Linked DNA regions of Homo sapiens: region 2 is linked to region 1. A link means that fine-mapping ties the variant in region 1 to the expression of a gene that starts in the linked region. Tissue or cell type: whole blood. Region 1 holds a variant in brackets; the other region holds the start of a gene. All regions are shown on one strand. Distances are from middle to middle.

The links. PIP is the estimated chance that this variant, and not a neighbour inherited with it, causes the effect.
Region 2: it holds the start of CLEC16A, and the variant in region 1 is fine-mapped to the expression of CLEC16A in whole blood (INTERVAL, PIP 0.90).

What each region holds. Positions count from the first base shown.
Region 1 is chr16:11,031,403-11,036,952 of GRCh38, reverse strand. All of the region lies in intron 13 of CLEC16A (C-type lectin domain containing 16A), which reads right to left. Among named protein-coding and RNA genes, the nearest start is that of CLEC16A, 90 kb to the right of the region's middle. The variant G/A (reference allele first, on the strand shown) is at 3,060.
Region 2 is chr16:10,942,313-10,947,587 of GRCh38, reverse strand. CLEC16A (C-type lectin domain containing 16A) reads right to left here and starts at 3,024. Exons shown (of 24, transcript NM_015226.3): 1 at 2,791-3,024. The coding sequence starts at 2,870. It overlaps DEXI (Dexi homolog), which reads left to right and starts at 5,120. Exons shown (of 2, transcript NM_014015.4): 1 at 5,120-5,275. It also overlaps a transcript of CIITA not described here. RefSeq lists enhancers at 2,952-3,011, 3,232-3,411 and a silencer at 4,981-5,275.

The DNA of each region.
Region 1 (5,550 bases):
TGGGAATTTTTAGTTTGAGCACTGCTTAATGCATGGATGAGAATTTTTAGTTTGAGCATGACTTCATGTGTTTCCTTATCATTCGTGTTATAAAAGGAAAGTTAGGCCGGGCACGGTGGCTCATGTTTTTAATACCAGCACTTTGGGAGGCCAAGGTGGGCAGATCGCCTGAGGTCAGGAGTTTGAGATCAGCCTGGCCAATGTGGTGAAACCCCGTCTCTACTAAAAATACAAAAATTAGCTGGGTGTAGTGCACATGCCTGTAGTACCAGCTACTTGAGAGGCTCAGAAATGAGAATTGCTTGAACCCAGGAGGCGGAGGTTGCAGTGGGCTGAGACTGCGCCACTGCAGTCCAGCCTGGGTGACAGAGCGAGACTCTTGTCTCAAAAAAAAAAAAAAAAAAAAAAGGAAAATTAGAACAAAAGAACACAAGGATAAAACCTAACAAGAGCTAAATCAAGCTACAGACAGCCCAAAAGAGGCATGCTGAGCTGCTGGGGGCCCCTCTCAGGGGGCGAGCTGCTCAGGTTGGATCCTAAAGGATGAACAGGAGTTTGCCTTGAACTGGACAGGGAGGGCCAGGACTTGCCAAACCAAGGTGGGACTGCAGGGAGTGGAGCAGACCCAGAGAGGTCTGGGTGGGAGAGAGCCGGGGAGGGGGTGATGAGGTGGAGGATGGGGGAAGGGACAGGCAAGGCTTCGTGCCAGGATCCTGGAGGGTGATGCAGTGGAGGGGCCCAGGAGAGGCAGCTAGCGGGCCGTAACATAATCTGGTTGTGCCCTGGCTGACTGGGGTGGTTCCATTCCCCTGACTGTTCCAAGTGGTCTCCATGCTTCCGGCCCTTTACCCCAAACTGACCTGCTAGTGCCATGCAGTCCATGTGAGGTAGATTTTACCACCAGCCCTGGGAGGCAGAGAGCAGAGGTGATTCCACACAGCACACGGCAAAACTATATAACAGAAACCCCTCTGAACATCTCCCTTCTTTCCCCAAAGCTCCTTCTGGGCCAGGGGCCCCATTCTCTCTCCCAGCTCTTTTTCCCACCATGGCCTTTAAAATCCTCTCTTTGACTCCAACTATCCAGTGTTTTGAAGGAGGCCTTATCATTTACCAAAATACTCAGTCAAAACAAACAAACAACAACAAAATCACCAGTCTCTCTGGGGAAGGACAGAGTGTCTTTGGAAGGAAGGAGGAGAGGATTCTGCTAAGATGACAAGATTGCCTTCGCATGGTAAGCTCTGAAGAAATGGTGACCATCAGCCAGGCATATGACGTAGAATGCTTCATTTCATCCTCATGACATTCCATGAAGTGGCTAATAGTATTTCCATTTTATAGACGAGGAAGCTGAGGCTCAAAAAAGACATGAGCTTGCCTGGGGTCATGTGGAGAGTGGAAAGCCCAGCCCTGAATGCAGCCATGTGGCTCTTACCTCCCTCCTCTCTGCCGTGTACCATGATCCCCGCTGGTTAACGCTCTTTCCCTCCACCTTCCCAAGCTATGTATGTCATGTGATCTAGTGGTGTTCTTGGCACAAACACAACAGTCCATACATTTTTGCTGAATTAATTTTTTAAAAAGTTAAGTAGTTTTGATCAAATTTCGGGCAGAAGATTAGACAAATCTCAAAATGAAGGGGAAACATACGTAAAATAGAAGCCACCATATGACAGCTGTGCAAAAAAGCCCAACCATCACCCACACAGAAAACATGCTAGAAAGAAATACGACACTGTCAGCAGTTGGTTATTTTAAGGTGGTACTATCAAAGGCAAGTGAAAAAGCAACTTATTCTCATTTTTGTTTTCTATAACAATCATTGCATGACCATCACTGTACTTAGGATGGCATTTAATTTGTGGCGAACATTAGATTTAGGTTTAAGCCTCCTGCCTGAAACAACCTGGTGGCTGATGGTTCTGAGTGGCTAAGGTCAATGTCACCCTGTAACAGGGGCATGCATGTGAAAGGTAAGACGGCTCCTGTGTGCAAGGACATACACACAAACACACACACACACTCATACACACACAGACACTCATTCACACACGCATGCATACCCCGTGGTTTTTGGTCACAGAAAGGCAGGTTTTGCTGCAAACCCAATAGCTTCTTTGCCAGTCATTTCCCTCTGACAGAAATAAACACTGTGGATAATATATTATCCTATTTGCTTCAACTCTTAAGTGCTTTGTGACAGACAAATTCCAAAGAAACCCTGCTGCACTTCACGGGAGCACTAGCTCATTCTGGCTTCCAGCAGACCACATGTTCCCTGCCCCGCCCACAGCCCTGCCTTAGGGGTCAGAGCCTGAGCTGCCCACCGACTCAGAACGGGTGTCCCCTGTCCACCCGTGGACAGGGGTGGAGGGCGGAACTCTCAACTAACTCATTCAAAGAATCCAAAACAGAAGGGAAGGGTGTGGCCCCACAGTGTCAGTAACTCTTACTAAGCTTCCCTCTCAGTTCTGATATCTGGATTCTTCCCCCTTAGTAGTAGCCCCCATTTAGGGTAGAGAGGTAAAAGACCCAGACCAAAGATGCATAAGAATAATTAGACAGATCTGGATAAAGACACCACGAGAACACCAGGTAAACAGTTCAAACTTTTTAAAAACGTCTGTTGACCACACAAAGTCTCCTTGGCTGCAGTCACACAAGTATTACCAGCTTTGGAAGACTATAGACCAAAGATTTCGAAAGCTAACCAGATGTTGGGCCGATTTCCAATGTACTTCTAATTCTGGTTATGTGTCAGCCAAGATCCAAACTGACGTTGTGCAAGTTCTCCGCATGGCAAAAGCTTCCCTTTAGCCTATTACCTTTCAACCTTTTCCATATCGCTCATCCATGTTCCATTAACTTCTCAGCAAAACAAAACACAAAACACAAAGAGCCCAAGACTCCTTCTTCCTGGGTAAACAATGACAAATGGAGTGGCAGGAGTAGAAGGTTGGTCACTGAACTGGGGAACCTTCAAGATACAAAAGCTGTAAAACTCACCCCCATCCCTCCACCTCTGGCCCAGGACTCAGCGGACTTGATAGAAGAGC[G/A]AAGGCTGCATTTTCTATTACAGAAACAAACCAGAATTCATTATGTGGCCCAACTGAATCACAACAAGCGCCTTCCGCCAACCGGTCAACCCTTTCCACTGTGGGATATTCATTTCGGTGCAGCATCTAATCTATTATGATTACTGGAAGGCCTGAGCTCACATTTGGTTTTTATGAACGTGGCTTTTATGTTAAAATTGACTATGAGGAAAAAATCTATGAGAAAGAGACCAGGTCACTTGGGACCTGATTTGGGGGGTAAGGATCTGGAAAAGTGAGGCTGAAGGTCAAGTGCAGCCTGATCAGCTGCTGCATAACCAAAAACCAATCACTCAACCAACCTCCACCAGCAAAGCCCCACCAAATGCAGACTCTGTGCTCACAGGCCAGGACTGAGCATAAACCAGGTGGCAGCTCCCCCACGAGGCAGCTTCCCCAGGCACCTGGGCCTCAGGGCACCGGACTTGAACTTTTCCGTTTCTTCTCCAAACCTACTCCAAGGCCCATGCTTGTTAGTTCTGGAAATGGCACTATTGGTCACACAGGGAAAGGAGTCAGGAACCTGAGCCTTACCCAGGCTCCTCCCTTCATGCCCCCTCCTTTCAAATCAACCAGAACCCCTCACCCCTAGCCTAGTGACTCTCCTTGTCTCCTCATCCTAGTAAATGCACCCCCACCATTGCTCAAGCCAAATCACAGGAGTCATCTGACTCGTCCCTTTCACTCGACCCCTACATTCAATCCATCAGCACGTCCTGGCTCTAGCGCTGAAATAATCACAAGTCCTTCCAGTTTCCTCTACTCCCCAGCCAGCAGCCTAATCCAATCCACATTATCTCGCCTGGATGACTGCAACAGCTTCTTAGCAAGTCTCTCGGTGTTCCCTCCTGCAACTCATCCCCACCCCCAGTCATCTACTTTCTGTCTGGTAGCCAACGTTTCTTTTAAAAACTTCCATCTGACCACATCACTGTCCTACTTAAAAATTCGGTAGGGGTTTCCCATTGCACTTGGAGAAAAAATGGCAATTCCTCTTCAGGGCCTTCAAGGCCCTTCATGACCTGGCCCCTGCCCGCCTGGCCAGCCTCACCTTGGCCCACTTTCTGCTCCTTCCCACCCCGGGGCCTCTGTACATGCTGCTCCCTTCACCTGGAGGACTCTTGCCCCAGGTCTTTGCAGAGCTGGCTCCTTCTCACTCTCTGGGCTGTGGCTCTGCTGGTCCTTCCTCAGAGGAGCCCTCCCCGACCACCCTGACTAGCACCTAGTAACCCCTGCAGCACAACCACTAGGCTTCCTCATCACTCCACCCTGTTCATTTCCTTCTACCATTTGTCACAGTCACAATTAATCTTCTTGTTCACTTCAGTGAGACTCATCTGGGCTTGTTTGAGTGCCTATGACGGGGCCTTGCCCTGGCAAGCGCTCAGCAAGTATCTGCTGAATGATAAGAAAGCCTCTCAGTTTCACCTCTCATCCCTCCCACCCGCTGGCTGAATTACTGCAAACCCATTCTGAGAGGTGCAGAGTGGGTCAGCTCACTAACTGACCAACTGCCCCCCAGCAGCCCCACACGGCTCATAGGAACACAGTTCAGTCGCTGCCTGTGCCACCCCCTGCAGACTGGCTCCAGATGCCTGCCTCTTGGGGCACCCGCTGCCTCGGACATGCTGCCACTCACCCTAGGGAACGGGCAGTGATCTGATGGATATGCCACAGGCTCTCATGCCCCTTCTTGCTCTGTCCTCTACCATAGCCCGGGTGTCCTCAGGAAACGGGTCCTCACTCCTGCGGGCAGAGTCCATGCTCACCACCAGGCAAGTGACCCTCTATTGTGCTGACAGCCTCCTCGTAGGACTTTTCTGTCCAAGAATGACTGATGCTTTCTTGGGCAAGGGCCTGGGTTGGTCTGCCTGGAGTTTGTAGTCCCCATGTTGAGCACACTGCCTGGCACACGGCCGGTGCTCCACATGCATTTGCTGAATAACTAATTACATGAGGAAATTCATCAGAAACTGCAAGCTATTCCTCCTGATCACTTAAGCCTCCAAGAGGCCTCTCCTGATTGCTCAGGCGGATGTAGTACCCTCTACCCTCAGCCTGCCCCACCGCATTACCTAGTTTTATTTTCACTGTTGCACTTCTCGCTACATGGGATTATTTTACTTGGTTACTAGTTTACTGTCTGTCTCCTCTAAGAGAATCCAGATTCCATGAAAGCATTTGTTTGCTTCACCACTGCATCCCCAATACTGATCCCAGTGCCTGGCATCTAACAGGGGCTTCCAAAATATTTGTTGGAAGAATGAATGAATCAATACATGCATAGCATTAGCAGAAAATGGGAGAAGGAATTCAATTTCCTTGAATATACAGTTCTACTCTTCCAAGAAGAAATTCCCAAGAAAAAGAGGTAGGATGCCCAGGCGGGAACACAGGTGAGTGGTCTCTCCAGCGCATAAGATGGATGAAGGTGCATGGCAGCACACCCAGT
Region 2 (5,275 bases), 89 kb after region 1:
TCAGCCCCCACCTGGACATGCCACAAAACCCGCAGGGTCCTGGTCACAGTGCTCCGCCTCCCGCCCCTGCTGCCCGCCAATGGTGGCTTCTGTTCATTCTTGGAGAACCCGCGCTGGTGTTGTCTCCTCCAGAAAGCTCCCAATAAGGGTTCCCACAGAACCCTGGGTCCATGGCGATCTCAGCACTTATCACACTGTACAGTCACTGGCTCTACAGCTGTCTCCCCCACCAGCCTGCAAACTCCCTCAGGGAACGAGCTGTTCTGTACCCAAGACCCAAGATGTTTACCAACAGAGCCAAATGCAGAGTGGCACAAGCCCCAGGGTGGGCACTGGCTGTTTACAAAACTCTTTTCCAAGTCACTGGGGGATCTTCTAACCCCCCCACCAATACACAAATCTCAGGTTCTTGGGGCTGTAATATGGATTAAGCTGATCTGCCTGATTCAGGGCAGGCAACTTGGGTTTCCAAAGAAGCATCCGATAGACATGTGATCTAAACAATGAACCCAGGCAGTTCCCAGGATACTGCAAAGGAACCAGAGACCGTTTACCATTCCCTGCTGGCTGGCAAAGATGCCCCATTGGCGATGAGACTCAGCCAAGTCAAAAGTGTTCTCAAACAGACTTATTGGGAAGTTTTATTCAGAAAGACAGTATAATGAGCACAAGCTCGGGAGTCAAATCCTGCCTCTGGTACCCTTCAGCTGCTGACACCTGGGGGCAAGTCACTGAAGCCCCCTGAACCTTAGTTTCCACTTCCGTAAAATGGAAACAATAATGGTTCCTGTAACTCAGACTTGTGAGGACTAAGGGAATTAACACACAGGCAGTCCTTAGCAAATACCTGGTACAGAATAATGCATTCGATAAATTAATAAATTAAGGTAATTTAAAAGGGCTAGAGTTAAGCAGAGTTAGGTGAGAACCTGGAGGTACCTGGATGCCGGCAGGAGGCCCAACCTCCTCTGGATAACTCCCCTCCCCTCCTCAGCCACCTCCGCCCACTCGATAAATTCCTGAAATCCTTCAACCACTCCCTTTCCCGGCCAGCTGCCCTCCCATCTAAGATCCCCACCTCCCTACCCACCCCAGACTTGTCCTGGGCCTCTTTCCTCCCCTTGTCTTCTCTCACCACCTCCTGCTCTAAAAGTGCCCCTCACCACATAGTGAACCCTCCTGCTCCCCACTCTTCAAGACTCACAAACGTTTACTAAATGCTGCTCCATGCTAGAAAGGTCACAGCTGAGAACTGTGGCCCTGCCACTACCCCTACCCCACTCCCGGGGACACATGAGAAGTCCCTATCTAATTCCCTCCCACCAATCCTTTCCACAGCCCCGTCTCCCTTCCACTACTTCCCACCATATCCCTAACCCTATCTTCCTCCTTTCCCATTAGTAGTCTCAGGATCTCCTTCTGGAAACCTGCCTATTTCTTGACACTGAAGATTTGTCTACTCCCCTCTTCAGCATCCCCGCCATTTCCCTCCCTAAAGCCTTTCCCTTCATACAGATCTCTATTTTTCATCATCCTCCACACCTGCCCCCAAATCCTGGGTCCTGGCCTGCATGCTCTTCATCTCTCCCCAATTCAATCATTCATTTTTCCACTCTTTAAGTAAGCAGAGAGCAGTCCTAGATGCTGGGAATACAACTGTGAACAAACCAAGCAGTCTGTGCCCTCGTGAAGTGCCAGTTTAACAGAAGACAGAAAATAAGTATAAATAAAAAATAAAGAATAATCGCAGAGAGTGGAGAAGCACTCAATGAAAGCAAGAGAAAGATGTGATGGATAGGAACTGGGATGGGGGGAGCACGTTAGGTAGGGTGGTCTGGGAAGGCCTCGCTGAGCTGATAATAAACACAGCTACCACTACTGGCCACCTACTATGTACCTACTGGGTCAGTCACCTTCCATTTCCATTACAATGTTCACGATCCCCATTTGCAAATGGGAATCTGGAGGCTCAGAGAGGTGAAGTAATTTGCCCAAGGTCACACAGCCAGTAAATGGTGGTTTCAGGATTTGAACGCAGGTGTGGCTGCAAAGCCAGCCTCTTAATTTCTGCACTCCTGGTCCCAAGACCCTATCTGCCACCTGTCCTCCCCCAGAGCTGTAGAGTCATTCCCTCCTCAGAGGTCTCTATTTTTCATCATCCTCCCCAATCGCCCCAAAATCCTGGGTCTCAGCGTGCATGCCCCCAGCTTAGACTCCCCTCGGAAAATAATCTGTTCTTTTATAATAATTAATGCCGTTTAATGAGCAATTGTACGTGTTCTGAGCTTAACGTTCATTCTCTTATCCAACCAACTCTCAACACAATAGCAGGAAGCAGGTGCTGTCACTCTACTCTTTTTACAAGTGGGGAACCTGAGGCCTACATTCACACAGATAGATTCGGACCCAGATCTGCCCGACTCCAGGACCCAGGCCTTTGACCCTCTAAGCTGTTCAGTTTAAGAAGTACCCCGCCAGGAAACTTGGTGGACACCGTCAAGAACAAAGTCTGTGTCCATAAACTGAAATCGCATCCTCTCGCTTTACAGGTGGGGATACGGAGACTCTGAGAAATTAAGCGACTTGTCCAAGGTCACACAGCCAAGAGCGACGGGGTCAGGGTTCGAACCCAGGCGCCCTGACTCCCGAGCCCTCGCTCTTAACCACCACACGGGCTTCCCCGGGCGCCCTTCGCCGCCGCTCTCACGCCTCCTAGAGCCCCGACCCGGAGCTCGGCGCCCCGTCCCCCTGTCCAGCCCCGAGGCCTCCCGCTACGCCCCCCACACTCACTTGAGGTGGTCCAAGGAGTGGATGTTGCGGGAAGTCTTGCCATGGCCCCCGCCCACCCAGCTCCGCGAGCGGCCAAACATGTCGGCGGCCCCGACCCGTCTCTCGTCTCACGGTCTCATGCCGGACCAGCAGAGCGGCCCAGCGCCCGCGGCGGTAGCACAAGCGGAGGATGCGGCGGCGGAGGCGGTGGAGGAACCGCGAGCCGCCTTCCTCCCCGGCCCACAGCCCAGCACTGACATTCAGCCGGAACCGGCCGTTCGACCGCCGCGCTTTACGGCCGCCGCCGCGTGGGGCGCTGGGAAATGCAGTTCACCCGCGTGGCCTTCGGCGGCAGGACTCCGCGAACGGACTACAAGGCCCGGCATGCATCGTGCAACCGCGGGCCTACGGCCATCCACAAAAGGCGGGGCGAGAGGAGGAGCGACCGCAGAATCCTCCGGGTGGGCGGGAATTGGAAGCTTTGGGCGCAGTCCCGGAGAGGGAATCGGCGTAGATGGGTCAAGGAAAGTCACCACTGTAGTAACAATTACTAGATTTATAATAAGAATAAGAATAGTATTGGATGGTGTATACTATGCAAAGCCACTATCCTAAGGGCTTTACATATTAAGGTATTTAATTTTCACAACCATCCTATGAATTGGGTACTATTATCGAACCTATTTTATCATCAGGGAAACGGAGTCACTGAGAGGTTGACTTACCCAAGATCATGCAGTTAACAAGTGGCAAAACCAGGGTTCATAACCACGCACGCACCCTTATTTTTCATTCCCTTTATAAACCAAAACGGCACTAGATAACAACCTTATTTGTCCTGACAGCCTTTTTCTTTTTCCACTTCAATTAAGTGTGTGTGTGTGTGTGTGTGTGTGTGTGTGTGTGTGTGTGTGTGTGTGTGTGTGTTGGAAAAGGCTGGATGCAACAATGCACCAAACTGAACATTTTGTACTTCCAGAGGATTCCTCTGGTCTTCAGCCAGAATCCATGCTATTTCCCAAAGTACCACGTTAAAATGAAAAAGGAAACACCCAACTTTCTGCATGAGCCAGAATATATCTAACTTCTACCCTGGATTAGAAGTGGTAAGTTCAGTGTGGGCAAGACTTCTCAAGTTTACCATCCATTCATTCATTCAGTCACTTCTACATATCAACCTTATTAAAGGTCCACTGTGTCCCATTAACTCTGCTCAAGAAAGAACTGGGCCAGAGGCCAATGTTCTCCCCAGTGCCTAGCACAAGGTTTGGCACATAGCAGGTGTTTAACAAATATTGGTAGAGTGCATGAATGAGTAAAGGTTTGTTTCACCTTCAGCAGTTGGAGAAATGGATAAGAGTGGAGAGTTAATGGTTTGTCCTGTAATTCATATAGAGTGGGGCAAGACAAAGTCATGGAGCAAAAAAGAACAGGATCTGGCCTCCAAAGAAACACACCCAGGCTCAGAAATGTAGGATCCCTGGGCTCGTATTTTTCATCTGTAAAAAGTACGCACATACATACTACACTGCCTTGTATACCTCCGATTAAGCGATGCATGTAAAATACTCAGCTCAGTGTGGCCTGAGATTTAAAGGTTTCTTGAACTGCTTTGGAAGGCTCTTTGGGCGAGATCATGTTTTCCTGAAAGACATGCAACGGTTACCCAAGAGCAGGGGAACCAGTGGGTGGGAGAGACTCACTTTTCTGTGTACTTCACGGTTGTTTGAATGTTTAGCCATGTGTATTATTGCTTTTAAACATGATTCACAAAGTAAAAAGAAACAAAAAGCATCCTTATGGTTGAAGATCTGAACTACCTCGGAATCTCTTTATTCAGGTGTTCCTTAACTCTAGGATGCAGGTTCCGTAGTGGGCGGACCTTCCAGCAACCAGAGTTTGGAGAAGCGAAGGGGACACTGGTGGATCTCCACCATGAAAATTGGCGCTTTGGGAATGTCCAAAATTTCCAGGGCAACCGTCCGTCGCCCCTCCCCGACCCCGCCTCCTTTTAAAGGAGAAACGGAGTCCCAAAGAGGCATGCAGCAAGGTGCAGCGGTAGCCCGGGTTTCCTTCGGCTTTTGCGGCCTTAGCATTATGTCTAGGTTTGAACTGTGTTCAGTCTCTTTTACCTCCCCCTATTCGATACGCAGAGCGAATTCGATTTGAGATCTGAGGGCAGACCCGAACCAGGAAAGCAACTCAGACGCTAGGGCCCCGAGGGGCGGAGCGAAGCGGTACCCGCCCCCTGGCGGCCGGAGCCAATCAGCGCGGGCGTTGAGCCGGCCAATTAGCGCGTGCAGGGGGCGGCCTGCCAATGAGCTCGGGGCCCCTCGGGAGGCGGAGCTCCGAGCGCCACCGGGAGGGCTACGCGGCGGCCGCAGCCATGGGTGCTGGGCCTGCGGGGGCGCGGGGGGTGCGCGAGGACCTGCGGGGCGGGGCGGGAGAGAAGGCTGCCGGGACCGGCCCTAGACACTGAGCCGCGGTGGGATCCCCACCGGCTCTG